Regions from separate parts of the Homo sapiens genome. Here regions 2, 3, 4, 5 and 6 are each reported to be linked to region 1. Evidence: microRNA targets listed by miRTarBase, many of them from high-throughput screens and not tested one by one. Region 1 holds a microRNA gene; each other region holds the end of a gene's coding sequence.
What was found. Region 1 holds the annotated microRNA hsa-miR-1237-3p (UCCUUCUGCUCCGUCCCCCAG, at 1,501-1,521, opposite strand). A microRNA usually pairs through its seed, bases 2 to 8, with sites in the 3' UTR of a target mRNA and lowers its output. Matches are read on the target gene's strand: a 7mer-m8 pairs with bases 2 to 8, a 7mer-A1 pairs with bases 2 to 7 and ends in A, and an 8mer does both.

Region 2: the mRNA of PSG4 is a reported target of hsa-miR-1237-3p. The part of its 3' UTR that is shown has no 7-base or 8-base seed match.
Region 3: the mRNA of GPR107 is a reported target of hsa-miR-1237-3p. Seed matches in the 3' UTR shown: 7mer-m8 at 2,202-2,208 and 7mer-m8 at 1,605-1,611.
Region 4: miRTarBase lists ANKLE1 as a target of hsa-miR-1237-3p. Seed matches in the 3' UTR shown: 7mer-m8 at 403-409 and 7mer-m8 at 593-599.
Region 5: miRTarBase lists METTL24 as a target of hsa-miR-1237-3p. Seed matches in the 3' UTR shown: 7mer-A1 at 1,751-1,757.
Region 6: the mRNA of ST3GAL6 is a reported target of hsa-miR-1237-3p. Seed matches in the 3' UTR shown: 7mer-A1 at 2,931-2,937.

What each region holds. Positions count from the first base shown.
Region 1 is chr11:64,366,115-64,370,203 of GRCh38, reverse strand. MIR1237 (microRNA 1237) reads right to left here and starts at 1,602; the gene lies at 1,501-1,602. It overlaps RPS6KA4 (ribosomal protein S6 kinase A4), which reads right to left. Exons shown (of 17, transcript NM_003942.3): 10 at 1,944-2,072; 11 at 1,603-1,736; 12 at 1,407-1,500; 13 at 585-758; 14 at 311-505. RefSeq lists an enhancer at 526-1,045.
Region 2 is chr19:43,189,575-43,193,663 of GRCh38, forward strand. PSG4 (pregnancy specific beta-1-glycoprotein 4) reads right to left here. Exons shown (of 6, transcript NM_002780.5): 6 at 3,128-3,814. The coding sequence ends at 3,798. Among named protein-coding and RNA genes, the nearest start is that of PSG5, 5.1 kb to the left of the region's middle.
Region 3 is chr9:130,134,483-130,138,571 of GRCh38, reverse strand. It overlaps GPR107 (G protein-coupled receptor 107), which reads right to left. Exons shown (of 18, transcript NM_020960.5): 18 at 1-3,547. The coding sequence ends at 3,451. Among named protein-coding and RNA genes, the nearest start is that of GPRACR, 7.7 kb to the left of the region's middle.
Region 4 is chr19:17,286,238-17,290,326 of GRCh38, forward strand. ANKLE1 (ankyrin repeat and LEM domain containing 1) reads left to right here. Exons shown (of 9, transcript NM_152363.6): 9 at 143-1,409. The coding sequence ends at 315. Among named protein-coding and RNA genes, the nearest start is that of ANKLE1, 6.4 kb to the left of the region's middle.
Region 5 is chr6:110,242,274-110,246,362 of GRCh38, reverse strand. It overlaps METTL24 (methyltransferase like 24), which reads left to right. Exons shown (of 5, transcript NM_001123364.3): 5 at 103-2,423. The coding sequence ends at 417. LOC105377937 (a long non-coding RNA gene) reads right to left here and starts at 2,293. Exons shown (of 2, transcript XR_942858.3): 1 at 2,221-2,293.
Region 6 is chr3:98,793,315-98,797,403 of GRCh38, reverse strand. ST3GAL6 (ST3 beta-galactoside alpha-2,3-sialyltransferase 6) reads right to left here. Exons shown (of 10, transcript NM_001323368.2): 10 at 1,552-3,729. The coding sequence ends at 3,643. It overlaps DCBLD2 (discoidin, CUB and LCCL domain containing 2), which reads left to right. Exons shown (of 16, transcript NM_080927.4): 16 at 1-1,463. Among named protein-coding and RNA genes, the nearest start is that of ST3GAL6, 32 kb to the right of the region's middle.

The DNA.
Region 1 (4,089 bases):
GAGGCCGGCCCAGGCTGGGGTGCCGAGGCTGACCCCTCCGCTCCCACAGAACCACTCACCCTCCCCACTAGGGGCACTCCTGAGACCCACGCGTGGTGAACCCTGACTTCTAACCCCCAATACCCGGATGCTCCGACTCTAGCACCAGAGCGACCCCACCTCTGTATTTGAACCACCCCGATCCCAGCTTCGGACGAAACCCAGCCGCCCCCACCAAGATGACCCCTGTCCCCTCCCTCGTGCTGCTGCACATCAGGAAGACGCCAGGTCCGAGCGACCCTGACCCCGCCTCAAGGACCGCGTCCCATACCAGAATGACGCCCAGGCTCCAGAGGTCGCAGGACTCGTCGTAGCCCTGCTGCGCCAGCAGCTCGGGGGCAGCGTACTGCAGCGTGAAGCAGGGCGTCTGCATGGGCACCCCGGGACTCTGCGGCCGCAACCGCGCGAACCCGAAGTCGATGATTTTCACCGGGGCCCCGGGCGTGTCGTCGGCGTACAGGATGTTCTGCGAGGGCGGCGGGGTAGTGGTCAGAGGCAGCCCCCGGCGCCACCGCTCCGCCCCGCCGCCGAGGCAGCTCGCCCACCTCCGGCTTGAGGTCGCGGTGCACCACGCCCGCCTCCTCGTGCATGAAGCTCACGGCCGACACGAGGCTGCGCAGGATCTGGCTTGCTTCCGACTCGCTGAAGTGCCGCTTCTTGCGGATGTGCTCCAGCAGCTCCCCGCCCCGCAGCAGCTCCAGGACCAGGTACGTGTGCAGCTGCGGGCGGCGTGGCGGGCCAAGGTCAACACCCACCCACGGCGGCAAGCCCCCTCCCACCACCCAGGCCCCGCCCCCGGCCTTCGGGCCCTGCCAATGTTCGAGAACCCCCTCCTCAAAGTCCTTTTTCTTTCTTTCTTTCTTTGTTACTTTTTTGGAGACAGTCTCGCTTTGTCGCCCAGGCTGGAATGCAGTGGCACCACCTCGGCTCACTGCAACCTCTGCCTTCCGGGTTCAAGCGATTCTCGTGCCTCAGCCTCCCAAGTAGCTGGGATTACAGGCGCACGCCACCGCGTCCGGCTAATTTTTGTATTTTTCGTAGAGACGGGGTTTCGCCATGTTCCCAGGCTGGTCTCGAACTCCCGACTTCAAGTGATCCGCCCACCTCGACCTCCCAAAGTGCTGGGATCACAGGCGTGAGCCATCGCGCCCGGCCAAAGTCCCTTTTCTTGTCCATCCTCAGCTCCGCCTTCCCGTCCTCAGGCCCTACTCCCCTCAAATTCCACTCCCTGCGCCTCCCTGGTCCCTTTGGGCCCCGAATCAAACGCTAGGCCCCGCCCAATTCACCCCTAGATCCCGCCCATAGTGCCCCCAAGCCCCGCCGCCTGCCCCTTTTCTCTCCGCCCTCCCCTGGCCGGAAGCCATCACCTGGTCGTGATGCACCTCGTGCAGATTCACCACGTTGGGGTGTGACTGGCACAGGCGCAGGGCAGCCACTTCGCGCTGCGTGTTCGCCTCCAGCCTGGGGGACGGAGCAGAAGGAGTTACGGTCGCCGCGCTTCGGCCCCGCCCCCGGGACAGCGCTCTGCCACCCCCACCCCTGCCCGCGCCTGGGCCCTCCCACCTGCGACTGAGGATCTTGACTGCGAACTCCTGGCCGCTCTGGCGCTGGCGGCAGCGGCGACACACAGAAAAGCTGCCCTGGCCCAGCGCAGGCTCCCGCAGGTCCAGCTCGTACTGCTGGAAGAAGGGCGAGTCCTGGAGGCGAAGGCGAAGGCGAAGGCGAAGGCGGCGCGTCAGAGGTCCCACCTGGTAGCCCCGCGGCCCCGCCACGCCCCATGTCGGAGAGGCTTAGGACCTTGCTGAGCTCACGCTGCGGGCGCCAGTTGGATCTAGGCCTAGAGTCCCCGGGCCTAGGCCTCTCCTAAAACCAATTTCCCCCCAACCCAGCCCAGCCCAGCCCACCTGCATCATAGCGCTCCTGGCCACCGCTGCCCGACCTGGCCGGTCTCCAGCACCAGGCGCTTCCAGCCCATCGGTCATCACCGCGTTGTTGTGGTCAAAGAGAATGGAGGGTGCCACAAAGGAGTATCCCTGCAGGGCGGGAGTCCGGGGAATGGGCATGGGCATGGGGGTTGGGGGTGCGGGTGAGGAGACTCTGGTGGGGAACCAGGCAAAGGCAAGACCCTGGACAAGGGGGCAGTGGGGGGTGTTCCAGTTGCATTCTGGTACACACAGGATGTGTGGACACTTTTTATTCCACCTGGTTTTATAATCACTTGGGGCCATGTCTGTCCCCACCAGCCTGTGACCCCAACTTTCTCATCAGAGTGACCACTTATTCCTCCCCAGGTGCCAAGGGCTGAAGGCACTGAAAGGACCAATGAATATATTGAAAGTGTGGCCTGAGTTCACGCTTAGCTTATGAGAATCCAACTCTATCCGCTGAGGAAAAAAAACTTATTCCTCCCTTTCAAGCCGGACTTTGGCTTCTTCTGCAAGGGGAGCTACTGAAGAAATGCAAAAAGAAGGCAGAGTTAATTCTTTGCTTTTCCTAAAGATCCATGTCCTGGCAATTTGAGGAGCTTTTAAGGGTCATTTTAATTGCGTGTTGTGGCCAGGCACGGTGGCTTGCGCCTGTAATCCCAGTACTTTGGGAGGCTGAGGCAGGTAGATCACCTGAGGTCAGGAGTTTGAGACCAGCCTGACCAACATGGAGAAACCCCATCTCTACTAATAATACAAAAATTAGCCAGGCGTGGTGGCACATGCCTGTAATCCCAGCTACTCGGGAGGCTGAGGCACGAGAATCGCTTGAACCCGGGAGGCAGAGGTTGCGGTGAGCCGATATCATGCCATTGCACTCTAGCCTGGGCAACAAGAGCGAAACTGCGTCTCAAAAAAAAAAATTAATTATCTGGGAGTGGTGGCACTTGCCTGTAGTCCTAGCTATTGGGCAGGCTGAGGTGGGAGGATCACTCAAGCCCAGGAGTTCAAGATTGCAGTGAGCCATGGTTGCCCAACTGCACTCCAGCCTGGGCCACAGAACAAGATCCTGTCTCTAAAACATTAATTAATTAATTTTAAAAAATAATTTTAAAAATAAACTATGTGTCATCTTCTCCTAAAAATGTAGTACCCAGATCCGTACCTGGAATATTTTAGGCACTCACTACACATTTTTGAATCATTAAATGAATGAATGAAAGTACCTACCAATTCAAGAGAAAGAACTTTATCATGAGGGCTGTGAGACAATGGAATGGAATGTGGACATTCAAGCACAGAGTTGTCAATTCTAAGAGCTTCAGAGAAGGGACTTATCCAGCCATACTTGGTCTGTCTATTAAACAAACCATACTGGTTTATTTAGTGATAATGATATAATATCATTATGGCAACATGATAAACTGCACAGAAGGAGATGCTGTCCACAGAGGACTGCAGCACAAAGAAAGGGTGACCCCCTGGGCCAGGTGAGCAGACAAGGAGGCCTAAAAGAGGGGTAGAAGCTTGCCATGTAGACTGCTGTAGAGAATGTACTCCAGGTAGCAGGAGCAGCAAGTGCAAAGGCACAGAGGTATATTCTGGAACCTCTGAGCAGTTCGATCATGCCCTCCAGAGCATCAAGTAGGAAAATGATGAGAACTGAGGCTAAGGTTCTAAGCAAGGACCACATCATGAAGGGCCTCAATGCCCAAGCAAAGGGAGTTTGGACTTGTCCAAAAGGTGTAAGCTTCTAAAATTCAGTAGAGGGGGCTTGGCATGGTGGCTCATGCCTCTAATCCCAGCACTTTGGGAGGCCGAGGTGGGCGGACCACAAGGTCAAGAGATTGAGACCATCCAGGCCAACATGGTGAAACCCCATCTCTACTGAAAATACAAAAATTAGCTGGGTGTGGTGGCGCACGCCTGTAGTCCCAACTACTCAGGAGGCTAAGGCAGGAGAATTGCTTGAACCCGTGAGGCAGAGATTTCAGTGAGCCAAGATCTAGCCACTGCACTCCAGCCTGGAGACAGAGTGAGACTCCGTCTCAAAAAAAAAAAAAAAAAAAATTCGGTGGAGGGGACCTGACCCTCCAGGAGTGTACCATGCTATGCCAAGGGCATG
Region 2 (4,089 bases), not on the chromosome of region 1:
ATAACTCCCTGTATGTTCCACCCTAGACTTTGATCATCTCTACTCTGTCTCTATGAATTTGCCTATTCTTAATGGTTCATATAAATGGAATTATACAATGGTGTTATTTTGTTTCTGACATATTTCACTTAGCATAATGTTTCCAAAGTCCATGCATGTTCCAGCGGGTGTCAGAGCTTCATTCCTCTTTATGGCAGATTAACATTCTGTTGTATGTGTCACCATATTTATTTATTCATGTGTTGATGAACACTTGGATTGTTTTCATATTTTATCTTTTGTGAATAATGCTGCAATCAACATTCCTATGCAAGTACCTGTTTGAGTCCCTGGATTTAATTTTTTGGGTATATACCTAGGAATGGATGTTGTTTCAAATGAGAATTCTATGATTAGCTTTTTGAGGAACAGGAAAACTGTTTCTCCTAGTGGCTGTACATTTTTATATTCTCACCAGCAATATATGAGGATTCGAAATTCTACATAATGCTGCTACTTGTTATTTAACATTGTAAAAGAATGGTAGCCAGTTTTGTAGGTGTGATTGGTGTCTCATTGTAGCTTTGACGTTGTATTTTCCTAATGACTAATGATGTTGAGTATCTTTTCATGTCCTTCTTGACTATTTGTATATCTTCTTTGAAGAAATGTCTATTTGAGTCTTTTGCCCATTTATAAATTGGATGGTTTGTCCTTTTGTTATTGAGTTGTAGCTAGTTCTTGATATTATCTGGACATGAAAACTGCCTATATGTGGTTTGCAGATATTTTCTCTCATTCTGTGCCTATTAATTATTTTCTTGATAATTTCCTTTGATGTACAAAAGGCTTACATCTTGATAAAGCCCAATTTATCTTTTTTTCTTGTTTCTCATGCTTTTGTATCATATCTAAGAATCCACTGCACATTTGAGATCATCAATACTTACGTCTATGTTTATTTTAAGATGTTTTTATGGTTATAGGTCTTATATTTAACTCAGTGATCAATTTTTTAGAGAATGGTTTGATATCGTGGGAGGTAGAATTATCTAAATTAACTGTTTTGCATGTGGTTATCTAGTTGTTTCTGCACTATCATTTGAAAGGAGAATTGTTCCTCCATTAAATTGTCTTGATACCTCCTTCAAAGAGTAATTGACCATAAGTGTCAGGGTTTATTTCTAGACTCTCAATTCTATCCCATTTGTCTTTATGTCTATCTTTTGCCAGCAGCTTCTGTTTTAATAATTGTACTACTTTGTCAGTTTTCAAATAAGAAAGTTCAAGTCCTACAATTTATTTCGGCAAGATTGTTTTGGCTATTCAGTGGTCCTTTTTGAAAGGTGGGAAGGCCAGTGTTTCACAATTGGGAAAGCCTTTTCTGTCTTCTTCAGGGGGAAATTTGGGAGAACCTTCAAGAAACTTATTCTAAGTAGGTAAACTGTCACCACTTTATTTGCTGAAGTGCTATGTTAAAGTGTGCATTGCCTCTTGTGGAAGAATTGTGAGACCCTGGAAGCACTTGCCCATGTGGTGAGAGACAGTAAATTCCACGATGAGGGGGGAAGGGAACATTGTTTTAGGACACCGTGTTGTTGGGGAGTTGTATACATCTCTACTTATTTATGTCTCTGTACAGTGGGTGTAGGGACCAGCCCCACAGGGTCGGTGGGTTTTTCTCCACATGTACAGAGATGAGAGATTGTAGAAATGAAGACACAAGACAAAGAGATAAAAGAAAAGACAATTGGGCCCAGGGAACCACTACCACCAAGACGTGGAGAACGGTAGTGGCCACGAATGCCAGGCTGCGCTGATATTTATTGTATACAAGACAAAGGGGCAGGATAAGGAGTGTGAGCCATCTCCAATGATAGGTGAGACCACATGGGTCACGTGTCCACTGGACAGGGGGCCCTTCTCTGTTTGGCAGCTGAGGCAGAGAGAGAGAGGAGAAAGAGCTTACAGCATTATTTCTGCTTATTAGAGACTTTTAGTACTTTCACTAATTTGCTACTGCTAACTAAACAGCAGAGCCAGCTGTACAGGATGGAACATGAAGGCAGACTAGGAGTGTGACCACTGAAGCACAGCATCACAGGGAGACGGTTAGGCCTCCGGATAACTGTGGTTGGACCTCACTAACATCAGGCCCTCCACAAGAGATGGAGAAGTAGAGTCTTCTCTAAACTCCCCCGGGGAAAGGGAGACTCCCTTTCCCGGTCTGCTAAGTAGTGGGTGTTTTTCCTTGACACTGAGGGTACCTCTAGTCCATGGTCCACTTGGCAACAGGTGTCTTCCCAGACGCTGGTATTACCACTAGACCAGGAGCCCTCTAGTGGCCCTGTCTGGGCATAACAGAAGGCTCGCAATCTTGTCTTCTGGTCACTTCTCACTATGTCTCCCCAGCTCCTATCTATTTATGACCTGGCTTTTCCTAGGTTATAATCATAGAGCGAGGATTATTATAATATTGGAATAAAGAGTAATTGCTACCAACTAATGATTAATGATATTCCTATATAATCATATCTAAGATCTATATCTGGTATAACTATTCTCCTTTTATATTTTATTATACTGGAAAAGCTCGTGCCCTCGGTCTCTTGCCTCGGCACCTGGGTGGCTTGCCGCCCACAAGTGGGCATCTCCGTTGGACACAGTAGGTTTTGAAATCCTTGTTTATTCTCTGGGGTCTGGGTCTTGGCTTACCTGTTAGCTGCAGCTGAAAGAGGTGTCTGCTAAGTCAATGACACCTGTGGGGAGAAGAAGGATTCAGCAGAGTGAAAGTAGCTGGGACTCAGAGAAGCCAGGAAAGTCTGACTCTTAGAAACTGTGGGTCAGCAGATGGGTGTCCTCAGGGATAAATGGGCCATGCCGGTAGCCACTGCAGTGAACTGGAAGAAGGTAAGGGATGCTGGGTATCCCATGTTCTCTCTCAGCTCTGCAGCTGAAGATTTGGGCCCTGGGCTAGTACAGCCCTGCAGCAGGGGAAGGGTATACAGGAATGGCTGCATATCAGGACCAAGTCCATGTCATCTTCTTAGGCATTGTTACTGCAGATGGAGGATTCTGTTCAGAGACCTGGCCTGGACACATGGGAGGGCCCACCCCATTCTTTTAAAATTATTTTAAGAGAACAGTATTAGCAAATGTGGTACATGTTTTATTCTGCTAGAATCAGTATTACTGTCACGTTTTACACTGTATCTCTTAGGAAATGGTGAGAGCCATCCACACAATGTGCATTTAAAGGAGACTCTACTATAATTTCAGCTTTCCTACTCTTTATAGAAACCATCTTCTCTGCAAACACACAGGCAATATCTCTGTGTTCATTTCTATTGGGAGCCCTGTATGCAAGATGGAGAGAGCCACATTTCCCCTGAGATGTTACGTAAAAGTTTGAGGTTGAGATGACATATCTGACACTCTGTTGTTACCCTCAGAAGCTACTACATGTGAAATTCTAATGACTGCATTATCCTGCCAAGTGAAAGAGGCAGGCATGAGCAAGGACGGTTAAGAGGGGTGGGAGCCTTATCATGATGGGGAGTCTTGTTCTGACATCTTTGGAAAAACTGTCCACAGTGTGAAGTCATCAACTTGTTATCCTGGTTTACAGTTTGAGTAGCTGTTGTTATGGTGTCGAACATTTTGGTGAGTTCTGAGTGGCTCACATGTCAGGTACAAGGGTTTTCCCATGAAATTTACATCGAGTTGTCCACCTCCAGCTTATAGGGCTTCTGGAACAGAGTGGGTCTTGCTCTTCGTGATTCCATGGGAGAAAATGGAATTGGAGGAACTAGTAGAATTCAGGGTAATATCCAGTCTACAGGTGGATAATAAAAACACAGAAACAATGAACAGAGCTGCAATCTCATAACCGGTGTACTACAGTTTTTATTTTCCACATAATTTTTCTCTCTATGGGCATCTCTAGTTTTACCAATGATAATTTCAGTAGAATAAGTTTGTTTGCAAAATAGGTTGAGTTTCTTCAAACGTGGTCTGATTCTTTACATAAGTGCAGCAAGAGTAGCAATAGACCATGTAGGCGCTCTTTTAGAATTTTATTTGCTCTAAGTTTTTATAAGGACTCTCAGA
Region 3 (4,089 bases), not on the chromosome of region 1:
AGAGAAGGGAAGAGGAGGGAGGAGGAGGGAAGGAGGAGGAGAAAGAGGTGGAGGAGGGAGGAGGAGCGGAAGGGGAAGGGGGAGGGGTAAGGGCGAGGGCAGAGGAGGAGGGGGAGGGGATGGGGAAGGGGGAAGGGCGAGGGCAGAGGAGGAGAGAAGAGGGAGGGAGGCTGTGGAATGAGACAGCAGAGATGGCGATGAGGTCATCACGCAGGAGGAAATCTCACCCACACGAGGTGGACTTACAGGGCTGTGTGCTGCCTGGGCAGGCTGGACATGTCCAGGGCGGGGAAACCCTGGATATTTCACTCTGAAGTGGTTTCTTGAAAGAAAACTCAACTGACTCAGGCCATGAGCATCTTTTACACTGAAGCAAGCATCTCCTCACAAGTGCCTCCTACAAGTCACTAGAGTCATATTCAACATTACAAAATGCAGTGCTACTTAAATTTTAAAGCACTGAGGGACCAAGAAATGGGCTGATCAAGTCCTTGGCCACTCACTGTTAAGAGCCAGGATTTACAGATCAATGACTGTTCCTATTGTCCAAGAAATAATTTTCTAGCAAAGCATACACACTTTATTAAATTTCACAGCCAGCAGCGCTTTCAGTCCACAACAGATTTCTCAGAGGAAACATGGATATTTTGCGTAGGCAGAAACAGTGAGGAGTACAAAGCAAAGCTATAAATACCACCAATGGTTCTGCTATGTGCATCCGATATTTTTTGCCCGATCTGAAATACTGCAAGGGCTTAACCATTCAAACACCGCATGACAACGAACCCAGTGGACTGTGAAACTCAGGCTGCAGGAGGGTGGCTTGTCAGCTGGTGAAGCCACTTGGCTTTGGACTCCATCGGTCATCTTTACGCAAGAGCAGAGATGAACGGTGGGTCACGGCTATGACGTGAAGGAGAAAGAGAAGACACACTCACAGAACAGGATGGAGAGCTTCAATAATTTTTTAAAAGCTTGGAACCACCACCTGCTTTCCCAATCTTGGGCTGGGGTTTTGACTTTTCTTGATCATCAATCTGACTTGAAGCCTTTTACCAGTTACAATACAGACATGGCCAGATGACCTGCTTGTTAGGAAGGCTGTGGCCATCTTTGTTTCTGAAACAGTCTTATCTCATCTGTCCACTGCTGCTCTGGAAGGGTCAGGACCAGCACTGCAGACACTCGGCCATGCTGTGAGTGAGCCCAGACATACGCGTGGAATCTGAACACCCAACGCTGGCGTTCCCGTGCCAGTCTGAGGGCTGCGGCTCCAGCGCTTGTCCACACACACGCCTGCCTCTCTCTAGTTCCTCCACTGCCTGGCTTCCTCGCTTGCAAAACCCAGCATGTGAAATGAGGACACCTCCACGGAGACCCTTCCGAGCAGGGAGGTTTCATCACACCTTTCGTTCTTGCCAAGGAGTCTATCGCCTCATCCACAACATCTGCTTGCGGGAGAAACAGCAAATGTGTCCCTCTGAGGGAAGGACTGAGGAGGGCTTTGGTAGTCACAGATTGAGACACATTTCTGCGAAAACTGGTATTATGTTTCTGCACAGGAAAACAAAGTGTTAAAAATATTCCCATCCTCCCTCCAACTCCCTTCTGTCACACAGTCCCAAGTGAACTTGAAAAAGGTCCAGAAGTGAACACTTAGGGTGCATTTACCTTTCTCCTGAAGATGGGAAGACACACGGATGCTTGCCTAAAATATCTGCCGAGAGGTGAGCAGCTGTGGCCTGGGAAGGCGCTTGCTCTTCCTCCACATCAGCCAGAAGGCAGATCACACCTTCAGAGCACCCTACAGAACCCAGATGGCGAATCAAAGTGCAGAAAAAGAACACCCGCTTCCTCATTAGTCATTTAGGAAGATAAGATAGCATGGGACAGGGAGAACAACCATGTTCTGAATGGAGACTTTTTCAGGTTCCCAAACTTGGGACAGTGAGTGTGACCCCACATCCTGTGGTTTCTGCCTGACCCTTCTAAGCCAGAGGTGAGAAAACAACTCCCAGAGACCACGACTCTCACCCTCGGAGGTACCTGTTCCCCTGCAGGTGTGGCTCTCTGACAACCCCTAGGCAGGGGTGGGCTCCAGCTTTTGGAAGCAACCCTACCTAGCTGGCCCCCCAAGCATTAAGAAGCTTCCCTGATGGGGCCATGTTTTGGTCTCCTTTTAAGCCCTCAGTCACAATGTACCTTCTGAGCTTGTCCTACTATTCAGATGATTTTCTCTCTGAGTTGCAATACTGCTCAATTTAGGTGGCTACCTGTGTTCATTCAAGCTCTGGAAGTGTGGAAGGGAACTTAATCATTGAGTTTCTGTGAAGTATTTTGCCATCCTAAAATCCCTGAGAGTGAAACTGTTGAATCATGCTCACTTTCTTCACATACATACTCTTGGACTATGGGGACCAAGTCTGTTGAATTCATCTATTTAGAAATCCTACTAGCCTACAGGAAAAGCTTTTTAATGGGGATGATTTGCTTGGACTTAAGTATTTGCTTAAATACTACCTATTCTGCCCCCAGCTGCTCCTTGAGGAAAACTTTCCATTTCCCCCAAAATTCTGATCAAACACAACAAAGCCACAAGCATGAAGGGAAGCCAGACAGTGCTGCTCTGGGCTGTCAGGGAGTGGATGTCCAGGCAACGCCACAGGATAATGCTTTTTGAACTTAAAAATACATTTCTTTCCATCCATCAGGCAACATCTCAGTCAGAAAACCACCTCCCACCACCTGTGCTGTGCCACAGGGCATGATCCTGACAGCGACATCACAGCCTTCTTTTCCTGTTGGAAAGAAGACCACTGGGCCTCAGGAGCTGCTGTCCTGGTCACTCTCAGCATCTGGAATAAGGGTCTGGGGCAAAGCCGAGGGCAGGAATCCTGGGGCAGGTGCTACATCCTAAACTGGGTTTTGACTTTGCTTTCCAAAGTCACCTGTTTTCGTTCATTTTTGTCTCCCAAACAGGCAATGGCACTCTCCCCGCCCTTCTTCTTAAGTCCCAGGGTCCTCAGTAGACATTTCCTAAAGCATCAGACAGACACCTCGCACCCTCCTTCCCCCTCCACCAGCCGTCCTTGCTACACTTCCCCACACATGGGGTCACAACTGCATACACCTTAGAGCTCCGAAATGAAGAAGAAAAAAAGAAACCTAAATTAAAAATGAATTCTTCCTTTTCTCTTCCTCTCCTCCTCCCTGTGCCCGCCCTCCCATTCCCGCCTGAAAGAGGATCCAGCTGCCTCTAAACAGCCACAGATCGTTTCCATAAAAGAGAGTACAAAATCAGGTTTCCGCGGCACTGTGCTCCAGCCATGTGCCCTGGTGTCACTGTCGGTGGTGCCAATAGTTCACTGTAGGAGCTGCTCCTGCTGTCCAATAGGACTATGAATAAGTTAACAGTTTCCTTGGACAGTGCCATCCTCAGGGTCGGCTCTGTCACACGGCGCCTTCCCACTCGCCCTGGGGCTCCACGGAGCCGTTGGTCACCTTCTTGACTTTCTTCATACTTTCCATCACCCCAGATGTTGTCACACTGAACAAGGAAAGAAAAAACAATTAGGAACATCTCACAGTCTCTTAGTAAAAGGCCATCTCTGCCACAGCACGGTGATTAGGACTGATGATGGGTGTTGGTTTTTGAAACAGACAAAATCTAAGTGTGATTCCTGGTTCGTTCCTTACTAGCTGTGTAACCTTGGCCAAGTCACTTGAACTCTCTGTGCTTAAGTAATTCTCACTTTCCAGAACTGTCATGAGGAAAAATGAGATTCTCCAGAGTGCCTAATCAATAAACACCAGCTATCGTTATCACAATCATCATGAATCTTTTTGTCACAGCTTGCGGAATTTTTGTGGCGCACAGATATGTGATAGTTACGCTTATGAGACTGAAATCTGACTCTTAATGGACATTCAGAAAAGAAAGCTAATTAGCCAACCAGACATTTTTAATAAGCAGCCACAATGGATCATTTCTGAGCCAGGGGACAGAACCACAGGTTTAGAGGAACCTTCCAGGATCAAAGATTCTTTGGCCACTATAGACAGAGAACTGGCTGCTTTCTGCTAGCTGGG
Region 4 (4,089 bases), not on the chromosome of region 1:
CTCCTGGCTTCATGTGATCTACCCAAAGTGTTGGGATTACAGGCGTGAGCCACCATACCCAGCCGCCTGCTGTCACACACTTCTGCTGGATGGGGAGGTGTCCCCATGGCTGCCCCTGTGACCCCACATCCAATTTCTCCAGGGATCCAGACGCTCACCAACCAGAAGCAAGGGCACTGCTATGGAGTGGTGGCAGGCTGGCCACCTGCTCGTCGCCGGCGCTTGGGGGTGCACCTGCTGCACCGTGCCCTCCTTGTCTTCCTGGCTGAAGGCGAGCGACAGCTTCATCCCCAGGACATCCAGGCCCGGGGCTGAGTGCTGGGGAGTTGGCCATCCAGCCTGGGGAGAAATGTTTGAATGTTCCAGCTGCCCCATGCTGACAGCAGCCCCCATCTCTGGTTTCAGAAGGGGTGTGTGTGTGTGTGTGTGTGTGTGTGTGTGTGTGTGTGTGTGTTTGTGTGTGTGTGTGTGTGTGTAGGGAGCACCCAGGCAGATCTCCCCCAGGCTGAGAGAGGACTTTGTTACAGATGGTACTGCTGGAGAGGTAGTAAGTAGTGAGCTCCCCATCGTGGGAGGAGGACAAGAAGGGAAGCAGAAGGTGCTTTGGAACAGTCCGGTGCTTCTGTAAGAGGCGTTTGAACCTGGGCAACTCCACCTGGAATAGGAGCTGGGTAAAATGAGGCTGAAACCTACTGGGCTGCATTCCCAGATGGTTAAAGCATTCTAAGTCACGGGATCAGGTAGGAGGTCAGCACAAGATAACGGGTCATAAAGAACCTGCTGATAAAACAGGTTGCAGTAAAGAAGCCGGCCAAAACCCACCAATACCAAGATGGCGACAAGAGTGACCTCTGGTCGTCCTCATTGCTACACTCCCACCAGCGCCATGACAGTTTACAAATGCCATGGCTGGCCAGGCGCGGTGGCTCACGCCTGTAATCCTAGCATTTTGGGAGGCCAAGGAGGGCAGATCACCTAAGGTCAGGAGTTCAAGACCAGCGTGGCCAACGTGGCGAAACCCTATCTCTACTAAAAATACCAAAATTAGCTGGGCATGGTGGCGCGTGCCTGTAATCCCAGCTACTAGGGGGGCTGAGGCAGGAGGATCGCTTGAACCCAGGAGGTGGAGGTTGCAGTGAGCTGAGATTGTACCATTGCACTCCAGCCTGGGCAACAGAGCGAGAGTCTGTCTCAAACAAACAAACAAAAAAACAAATGCCACATCAACATCAGGACGTTAACCTTTAGACCCTATATGGTCTAAAAAGGGGAGGCATGAATAATCCACCCCTTGTTTAGCATATCATCAAGAAATAACCATAAAAATGGGCAACCAGCAGCCCTGCCCTGTCTATGGAGTAGCCATTCTTTTATTCCTTTAGTTTCTTAATAAATTTGCTTTCACTGTACTCTATGAACTCGCCCTGGATTCTTTCTAGCGTGAGATTGGAGAACCCTCTCTTGGGGTCTGGATCGGGCCTTTCTGGTAACACTTTGGCAGCTTGGTGCTGTCAAAATGGATGGAGCCTGCCAGGCGCGGTGGCTCACGCCTGTAATCCCAGCACTTTGGGAGGCTGAGGCAGGTGGATCACAAGGTCAGGAGATTGAGACCGTCCTGGCTAACATGGTGAAACCCCGTCTCTACTAAAAATACAAAAAATTAGACAGGCATGGTTGCAGGCGGCTATAATCCCAGCTACTCGGGAAGCTGAGGCAGGAGAATGGCATGAACCTGGGAGGTGGAGCTTGCAGTGAGCCGAGATTGTGCCACTGCACTCCAGCCTGGGCAACAGAGCGAGACTCTGTCTCAAAAAATAAATAAAATAAAATGGATAGAGGCTGCTTTTACCGCCCAGACATGGGACACCCACATGGCGGGTTGGACTGGGGGATCCTCAGCTGCACTCAGGATATCTACCCAGCTCAAGAGCCAAGTTCACTGCTACCCAGCCGTGAGACCTCTGATCAGTATTTTATCTGCCTGAGCATCAGTTTCCTTGGTTGTACAGTGGAGGCAGTAAAGAGGTCCTACTCCAGGGGATCATTGTAAGGTCATGTTGGGGCTGGGTGTCACGCTTGTAATCCCAGCACTTTGGGAGGCTGAGGCGGGAGCATAGCATGAGCCCAGGAGTTTGAGACCAGCCTGGGCAACATAGCAAGACTCTATCTCTACGAAAAGTAAAAACATTAGGCGGATCTGGTGGGTGGGCCTGTGGTCCTAGCTGCTTGGGAGCCTGAGGTGGGAAGATTGCTTGAGCCTGGGAGTTGGAGGCTTCAAGGAGCTACCATCACAGCACTGCACTCCAGCCTGGGCGATATCAAGATCCTGTCTCTTAAAAAAACTATAAAAATTTAAAAATAAGGTCATGTGAGCAAAGTGTGTGGCTCAGAGCCCAAAGTGTGTGGCAGTGCAGCCCAGGCGAGAACTTGCTGGAGGAAGGGGAGGTGTGGGGGCCCTCAAGGGGCCGCCTGTGTGATGAGGCGTGAGCAGGGCTGGGACCCTCCTCAGGATCATTGTGCAACCCCAGCCTCCCCTGTTGCTTCTGGGAACCTGTTTATCCACTATAAAATGGGATTATTGGCCGGGCTCGGTGGCTCACGCCTGTAATCCCAGCACTTTGGGAGGCCGAGGCAGGCAGATCACCTGAGTTCGGGAGTTCGAGACCAGCCTGACCAACATGGAGAAACCCCATCTCTATTAAAAATACAAAAATTAGCTGGGCGTGGTGGCGCATGCCTGTAATCTCAGCTACTTGGGAGGCTGAGGCAGGAGAATTGCTTGAACCCGGGAGGCGGAGGTTGCAGTGAGCCAAGATCAAGCCATTGCAGTCCAGCCTGGGTAACAAGAGCAAAACTCCGTCTCAAAAAAAGGGAGGGATCATTAATAATAACCCGGCAGGGCGTGGTGGCTCACGCCTGTAATCCCGGCACTTTGGGAGGCCGAGGCGGGTGGATCACCTGAGGTCAGGAGTTCAAGACCAGCCTGACCAACATGGTGAAACCCTGTCTCTACTACATACAAAACATGAGCCGGGTGTGGTGGTGAGCACCTGTGATTCCAGCTACTTGGGAGGCTGAGGCAGGAGAATCACTTGAACCCGGGAGGCGAAGGTTGCAGAAAACTGAGATCGCGCCACTGTACCCCAGCCTGGGCGACAGTGAGACTCCGTCTCAAATAATAATAATAATAATAATAATAATAATAATAATAATAATAATAATAATAAATAACCCGACTTCCAGCGATGCTATGCGACTTCAGACCATTCATGTGCAAAGGTCTTAAGTAAATACCAAGCCGCCATCCTGGTGAGATGTCAGCGGTCTGGTTTCGGGCGGGCGGGGGTCGGGGGGGGGTCGAGGGCATTTAAGCTTCTGGAAGTCGCTTCTGCAAAGGGCCCGGTGCATTTAGGGACTTGGGAGAGATCCGCTGCCTCATTGGTTTCAGGACCTGCCGGTCATCACGGCGGTTTAGCCAACCAGGTCCCCCAGGGGGCGGGCTGTGACCTGGGCCGAGTTTCCACCCACCTCGCCACTGCTTAGCCACCGGCTGCTCCTCGGGGAATGGCTGGTATTGTGATTAGGGGTCCAGTCTCTGGAGTGGGTTTGGGCTCGACCACTTGTAATCGAGCTGAAGAAACCGCTCTCTGAGCTTCACTTTCCTCCAGTGTAAAACAGGGGCCAGGCACCGTGGCTCACGCCTGTACTCCCAGAACTTTGGGAGGCCGAAGCGAGTGGATCACCTGAGGTCAGGAGTTCAAGATCAGCCTGGCCAACACAGTGAAACACTGTCTCTACTAAAAATACAAAAATTAGCCGGGCGCGGTGGCGGGTGTCTGTAATCTCAGCTACTCGGGAGGCTGAGGCAGGAGAATCGCTTGAACCCAGGAGGCTGAGGCTGCAGTGAACCGAGATTGTGCCACTGCACTCCAGCCTGGGTAACAGAGCAAGACACTGTCTCAGAAAAAAAAAAAAAAGTGTGAAACAGGGATGCCTCCCAGTTGCCAAATCTAATAATAAAGCCACAGGTGTTATGACACTGTGCCATCGCCCCAGAATACACAAACAGGACATTGGTAAAGAACCTAG
Region 5 (4,089 bases), not on the chromosome of region 1:
TTTAAAAATTCTGTTTCCTTCAGAGGTAGCTATAATGTGAAACTCCTGATATCAAGATAGTTTTACTAAATCTGCTAATCTCATTTCATTGCTTTGTTACAGATTGACGTTCTCAAGGCAGATCTGGAAAGTGCAGAATGGAAAGTTTTGGAAAATCTTATTCTGGAAGATGTTCTTGAGCAGATTGGACAGCTCATCTTTGAGATCCATCTCCACTGGCCTGGGTTTGAGGTCAGTGGCAGTGACAGCAGCGTTGTGCGGTTCTGGTACAGCCTTCTCAAAGAGTTAGAACAAAAGGATTTCAGGCTTTTTCACAGTTACAAAGACTTATCTAAACCTCAGCTATTCTTGAAGAAAGACATTTTCAATGCAAGTAGCTGTTATACTCTGAGTTGGGTGAATACAAGATGGAAATAGGATGCAGGATGTCATCAAGAGCACAAGAAAATATTTGCAGAATGCAGCATGTCCATAATTCTAATCATGAGTTTACTCATCCAGTCTCCTGCTAGCCTGTGCCCTGCTTGAGGCAGGGAGTGTGTTATTGCGGGCATGCAGCCTAGTGCTTGGCATGTGATGGGGCACAGTCAATACTTGTTAAAGGGATAAACACAGTCACCCCTATTTGCCCAGACTCTTCCTTCACCTTAACTTGGAAGATTATCCCCAGCTCATCACAGTTTTCCCTAAAATTCTCTATGTATCTATAATCTATGAATTCACCAACATTGAAATGAAATTATATAAATTTCCTATTTTTACTAGGTTGGTGAGATTTTTAAGTTCTTCCCCTACTGTTTAAAATAGGGTTTTAAATTTGAATTTGACCCTCCTTTTTCAAGGTTTTTCTTATTTACCTTGTTAATGATATTCTTTACAACCTTGTAGATTTCAGTCATTCCTTCTCAGCCTTTGCTGAGGCCATGCTGTGGCTTTCTAAGCAGCAATACTTCTGATTTCTGGGAACTCGGATGCACCAAATTCTGTCACTGAGTTAAAGAGACTAGACTATCAAGAGCTTCAACACGAAGGTGTAAGTTCCAGTTCGAGACCAAGTCTGAAGGTCTTGACCTCACCAAGACCCATGTCCCAGCTTGAAGACAGCCAGACAGAGAATTAATTCTTCCTTACTGCCTTAGGTTCTATTCAGGCCTTCAACTGGTTGAATGAGGTCCACTTACACTGAGGTGAAGAATCTGATTTATTTAGTCTACTGATTTAAATATTAATTTCATCTGGAAATATCCTTACAGATACACCTAGAATAATGTTTAACTAAAGATCTGGACACCCTTTAGTCCAGTTAAGTTGACACATAAAATTAACCATTGTAGGTAGGTAGGTAGATAAATAGATAGATGATAGATAGATAGATAGATAGATAGATAGATAAGATAGATTTTCCTACTGGCATGTTTCACCATTTTCTTGACTCACATATTCTGGTTTCCATCTGGCTCCTTCGGTCTGTGCTCTCCTCACTGAAGTAAGGCCTTTAATGATTACTTCATTATAAGTCCATGAGTAATATGGTTTGGCTACGTCCCCAACCAAATCTCATCTTGAATTGTAGTTCCCATAATCCCCACGTGTTGTGGGAGGGACCTGGTGAGAGGTAATTGAATCATGGGGTTGGTTTCCTCCATGCTATTCTCATGATACTGAGTAAGTTCTCATGAGATCTGATGGTTTTATAAGAGGTGTCCCCCTTCACTTGGCTCTCATTTTTCTCCTTCCTGCTGCCATATGAAGAAGGATGTGTTTGCTTCCCCTTCCACCACGACTGTAAGTTTCCTGAGGCCTCGCCAGCCATGCTAAACTGTGAGTCAATTAAATCTCTTTCCTCTATAAATTACTCAGTCTCAGGTATATCTTCATAGCAGTGTGAGAATGGACTAATACTTTGGGTATTACACTTTTTAGATTTTACGTATTTGAAAAAGCACTTGCTTTTTATACCTGAATAAAGTTTATTTGTTCACAGAAAAAAAAAAGAGCTTCAACTCAAGATGCTTTTTATACTCAGCCTTAATTCCCCTTCACTTCCTATTAAACTAAGCACAGAGCAGAATCTGGGTATCTTTGCTGTTGCCTCTTCTGCCTTCAAACATGATTTACCACCCACAGACTTGCCTATGCTGTCAAATCTTTTTTAAAAAAATACATTATCTCTAATAATGTTAAGTGCATTTTTCTTTACTCCCAGTTGGCATCACTTACATGATTGTGGCCTGAAGACCATCGTCTCACTTTCGTAGGATAGTTAGACAGTTTTTCAATAGCACCGATCCTTTCTACATTAAAAGTTAAGTGGAAAGTTTAGGTTCTCAGCGGTTCAAATGCTCTCTCTCATTACTATTTACAGGATTAAACACGTGCATAATTTTCTAAAATTCTATTTCAAATAAATAGCATAAAAACCACATTATTACTTTATTGTCAATTAAATATATTTTTTGGCATTTTTATATCCTGAGTATAAAACTGTATGTACATTGCTCAAAAACTGGGGGGAGAGAGTAGAATGCCGATTATTACTAGACTTTACCCCTTTTCCCAATTTGTACTTCCTTCTACCCTCAGACATTCCCCAGGTTAGCTCTTTGTTTCTTGAAGTGGTTTGAAAATGCCATTCCTCAAGTGAGAAATCAAATCGTCTTAGACTTGGATGACCTCACTAGCTTGAGTTGAAAAGAGAACAGGACTTTCTGAGTTAGTTGTGATAATTAAAAAATATATACACATGAGCTTTTTATTTTAAAACTCATAGTCCACTAATAAAAGTTGTTGAGCTGAGAGGACTGGCTTGAGTAAGTGTGATCTGAAAAGGCAGTTTAGTCATTTCAATGTACAGAGGTATTTCAAATGTGCAGAAGGGTCCACACACACTCTAAATTGGTTTATACTGTTAGTTATATGGTGTCATCTCCAAAGCAAAGCTAACTTTAGCCCAGTTCTGTTTGGATTATATAACAGATTTATTTTCATAAAATGTTTATATACTGAAATATATAAACATTTTTATACATTAAAGTGTAGAAAGTGTATTCATCTTAAATGTCCAGTCTGATCAGCTTTTAGATATGTAGCACACCCATATTAAGATTTTTAATTCGTGGAATTGGAGATTTAGGGTATTACTGAAAGCCCCTTTGTCTACGGCAAGTTAACTATTTATTTCAGGTTGGTGGTGTTGAGCATTGACTTCATCATGCTATATGTACCTGAAGCATGAATGAATGTACTGTTAAAAAAGAATATATCATGAACACATCCAGCCACGCTGATTGACCAGGCAGCCTGTTTAATAGTTATCCATACTTATTTTATGCTTATTTCTAAAATGGTCCTTCATTCTCTTCATGTATAGTTTCAAATTTGTGATGAATATACTGATGGTTGTTAAGGTTTTCCTGCCTCTAGAGTTTATTATGTTTATCATAAATAAACATAATAAATTTCTTAACCTCAGCACTATTGCCATTTGGGCTGGATAATTCTTTACCGGGGGAGGGCTGTTCTGTGCATTGTAGGATATGTCCCCGAGGGGGCAAGATCACCCACTGTGGAGAACTACTGGTGCAGGCCATGAGAAGAGGACCAGGCTACTATAGCACTGTTTACTTGTGAACAGGCAAACACAAGATCCTCTTATGAGGAACGGGCAAAACCATAATCATCACCACCACAACCACCACAAGAGCAACACAAACAACACATAACAAACAAACAAAACCAAGAGTTACTCTTTACTGAGAGCTAACTGTCTGCCGGACCATGTGCATAGCTTATTCCTAATTCTCACAACAAGGAAGTTTATTTTTTTCCAACATCATGAGTAAAGAAATTCTGAGAGAGGCCGGGCGCAGTGGCTCATGCCTGTAATCCCAGCACTTTGGGAGGCCGAGGCGGGCAGATCACGAGGTCGGGAGATCGAGACCATCCTGGCTAACACGTTGAAACCCTGTCTTTACTAAAAATACAAAAAATTAGTGGGCGTGGTGGCATGTGCCTGCAGTCCCAGCTACTCGGGTGGCTGAGGCAGGAGAATTGCTTGAATCTGGGAGGTGGAGGTTGCAGTAAGCCAAG
Region 6 (4,089 bases), not on the chromosome of region 1:
GAGATGTTTTTGGTAACTATTTCATTTTCCCAAAGAAGTTTGCTATTCTTGTGTTAATTGTGTATACCTGATTGTTTTTTCCTGGAGGTTTTTGTTGTTGTTGTTTAGTTTTGGGTTTTTTTTTTTTTAAGAGGGGCAAGTGTTTTCTGAAATGATGCATATTTTAAGACTCGATTCATATTGCCACTGTGCTATCCTTGAACTACCAATAATTTTTATAAAATATCTAGTTTTTACTACTTTTATATAAACTTTACTTTCCAGATGAAGAGCTGAGCCTGATTCAAATGGTTTTTCTGCTTTATACTTCTTTTTAGTTCATTGGTTTTTATAGTAGAGGTTTTCTATTTTTTTTTTTTTTTTTTTTACTACATTTATATGTCTGATACATATACGGCTTTGGAGACAATCAAGTAACAACTGAAAATGTGAAAGTAACCATATCTGACAAAATTCCCTTGAATTTTTATCCTTTGCTTGCAACATTTAAGACTCAAAGTCACTGGTATATTGGATTAAGTTTTTTCCTGTTAATGCAATTATAGAAATACATCGGAGACACAACAAATGTGGCCATTACAGGTTTCATAAAATTACACTGACTTGGCTGTTACTTGATCTTAGGAAACAGCACAGTTTAAGATATTGTGAATTCTGACTTATACTTTATTAAATGCTGTAAATCTAAATAGATCCTGTTGGATGTGATGGGTCTAGTCCAGTTTATTTAAGTTCATGTTTCACTGTTTGCACTTTGCATTGAACAATGGGTTTATTCGCTGATGTAAACGGTTCGAGTGAAGAATTAATGCAGTAAGTATGACAACACATACACACTTGCCTCTCCCCATCTCCAGAAGAGGGGAGCAGAGTCCGAGCTTATCTAAATATGAATGTGGCCACAAAGCTGTGGAAGGTGACAAAGCTTAAACACCTTTGCCCTGGCTCTGCATTGTCACCTAGAGAGCAAGAGGTCTATAGAAACATCATGTCACATGAAACGATTCTCTGCTTTTTGGTTCTGAACTTGAAGTCCCTAAACTGCAAAATCTAAGAGTTGGGTGGTTATTAAAATGCTTTTAAAGTCAACTGTGGCACCAATTCTAATGTAATCCAACTTGTGACTGTTTTTTTTTGTTTTGTTTTGTTTTTGTGTGTGTGTGTGTGGCACTGGGAAAAGTGGAAACAAACATGTATTGAAATACATATTGGAAATAAAAATGGTTTGAGCGTCAGTGATATTCTCCCAGAATGTACTTATCTTACCTCGGCATGTACTGTAGTCACTCAGTATTTGTATATGTTGCTAGAATTTAGATTGTAAAATAGTGAAATTTTAATGTGTTCATTTGTTTTTAATGTATATATGTCTTGCTCAGATTATTTGGTTTAAATAAAACAACCTTGAGGTTTGTAGCTTTTCCTTATACTATAAAATGCCAGATTCTTCTATTTTAACCTCACTAATTTATGGCCAATATTGTGCTTCCAGCAACATTTGAAAATGACACTGTTAGTTTACTTTGACTTTTTCTATGACCAGCGCCATCCTTTTTTTAAAAAAATAATTTCAACTTTTATTTTAGATTCTAAGGGTACATGTGCAGAGTGCAGGTTGTTACATGGGTATATTGTGTGATACTGAGGTTTGTGGTATGAATGATCCCATCATCCAGGTTGTGAGCATAGTACCCAATACATAGTCTTTCAGCCCTTGCCCTCCCCGCTCCCCTCGCTCCCCCCGCCGCAGTCCTCAGTGTCTATCGTTCCCATCTTTATGTCCTTGTGTACCCACAGCACCATTCTTTTTGAAGCCTGATTTACTTTATATCAATTGAACTTCAGCAGCCACACTGCAGCCTATGGCTGTGTGGTATGAGGGGAAAATCACACTGATTGATTACATGTGATTCCAGTTCTGGTACCTTCCTTTTGCACCTCAAAAAGTTATAAGAGGAATCAAAACTGTGGGACTCTGCAAACATATGCTGGTATTCATGTCTAATCTGGGTTAGATCAACTACTACTGTTCTCCCCTTTATTCTGCTTTATAAGTACCGCATTCTGTTTCTGAGCCAAATCTAATGTATTTCACCCTTTATACACCCTCTTTAGAGAGGCAGGTTGGTTGTCAGTAATCAAGCCATGGTTTTCCAGTGTTTCCCAATTGTATTTATTGGTCAAAAGAGAGTAATTCTTTCTTCAGCTCATACCTCTTCTGACAACTTTTAGTTCCATCCTTATAACCTCTATTTTTCTGTTTCTTCACCTCTCATTCCCCTACCTCCAGATGGCCTTTGGTTACATTTATTAAAATATAGGAAGGAAGACTAGCTCACCACATTTGTAGGATTGACTGGCTTGCATTGGATCAGATTCTCTGGTGCACCCTAGGTAGCCAGGCAAGCTTTCCATCTGAAGATTAGCTTTAATCATGGGAAAATGAGATATTCTTTTTGTACCATTTAAATCCAAAAATCCCAACTTCACTTTTTATATTTTTTAGAAGACAGCCTCACTCTGTCACCCAGGCTGAAGTGCAGTGGCGCGATCTTGGCTCACTGCAACCTCTGCCTCCCGGGCTCAAGCAATTCTCGTGCCTCAGCCTCCCGAGTACCTGGGACTACAGCGCATACCACCACGCCCAGCTAATTATTTTGTATTTTAGTAGAGATGAGGTTTCACCATGTTGGCCAGGCTGGTCTTGAACTCCTGAGTTCAGGCAATCCAGCTGCCTCCCTCGGCCTCCCAAAGTGTTTGTTAGGATTACAGGTGTGAGCCACCCTGCCCGGCCTCAGCTTGACTTTTCTTAAGTGTTTACTTGTTCTGTTATCTTCTTTACCTTTCCTAATTTACTTCAAGTGGAAAACCTTCAAAATTTAATGAATAAGTAAGTCAGGCAAAAAAAAATAATGTTCAAGATTTTTTTTTCCTTCTTGAGCTTGCCTAGCTTAGCTTCACTGTATAAAGTTAAACTTCATTTCTTTAAAATAATACAAAGCCATCAGAGTTTAGTAATTGTATTCTTTCTTTAGTTATTTACTTATCTAATAAGAACTTTATGTTTAGCCCATTTCCTTTAACTTAAAAACAAACACTGCCTTCATTGTACCAAATTACTCTTCACAATCATGGTTCATTTAATTCTGGGGGTTGTCAGGAGAGAGCTTAATTAAACCAGTATGAACTTAGATTTCCAGAGCCAAGTGGTTTCGGCTTGCCACATCAAGCCACAATCGTGATTTTCCACCAGCCATGTTTACAGTAGCCAAATATCCTCCTCAAAATGTCTTATTGTAGTCAGAATTGTTGTGGTAAACTAAATCCTTAGTAGGAAGTCATATCCCTTCAAAAATCTAAGATGAAGTAACTATAAAAAGACGTGTGAAAACACCTCAGAAAACTAGCTTATTTTAAAAACAATGCAATCAAAACTTATTTTCCTGTTATCTTTACATTTCTTGGTTTTCATAAGTTAAATATACAGTATTCACAGAAATTAAGCTGGTGGTTATGAATCACCAGGCAGCAACAGACAGTATACATAATTATTTGACGAGTGCATCCAACATATTTTAAACTAAAAATTGCAGTACAAAAATAAAACTAACACTGTTAGCATCATCTTCTGAGTCTGTAGAGTCAATCTTGAGTCAAGTTGATTACGAGGTTTTTTTCTATAATGTCCTTCAAAAAGAGCTGCTCTGCAGTCACATTGTGATACGCGTTCTAAAGAAGAAAAATACAATTACCATCATTCTTTCCCAATCTCAAAGTATTAGCAGCACCAATGGAGTACTTTATATCTAAAAAAATCCGAATAAAGAACTCGAATGTTAAGTAACGAGTTGCATGTACTTTTAACTTTTGATAGCCTTTTAAATTACTTTCCTTGCTGGTTCTTGTGCAAAAGCTTTCCCTACAGCCCACTCTTTCCATTTCAACTCTCACATAAGTAAGACTCCTTCATATCAAACCCTGGTAGACCGAATCATGGTACAATACAAATCTGGAGACCAAAATTTTGAGTTGTTCACTTTAATGGAAGAAGCCCCTAGAAATCAGTTTAAAAACAAACAAAATCAGCCT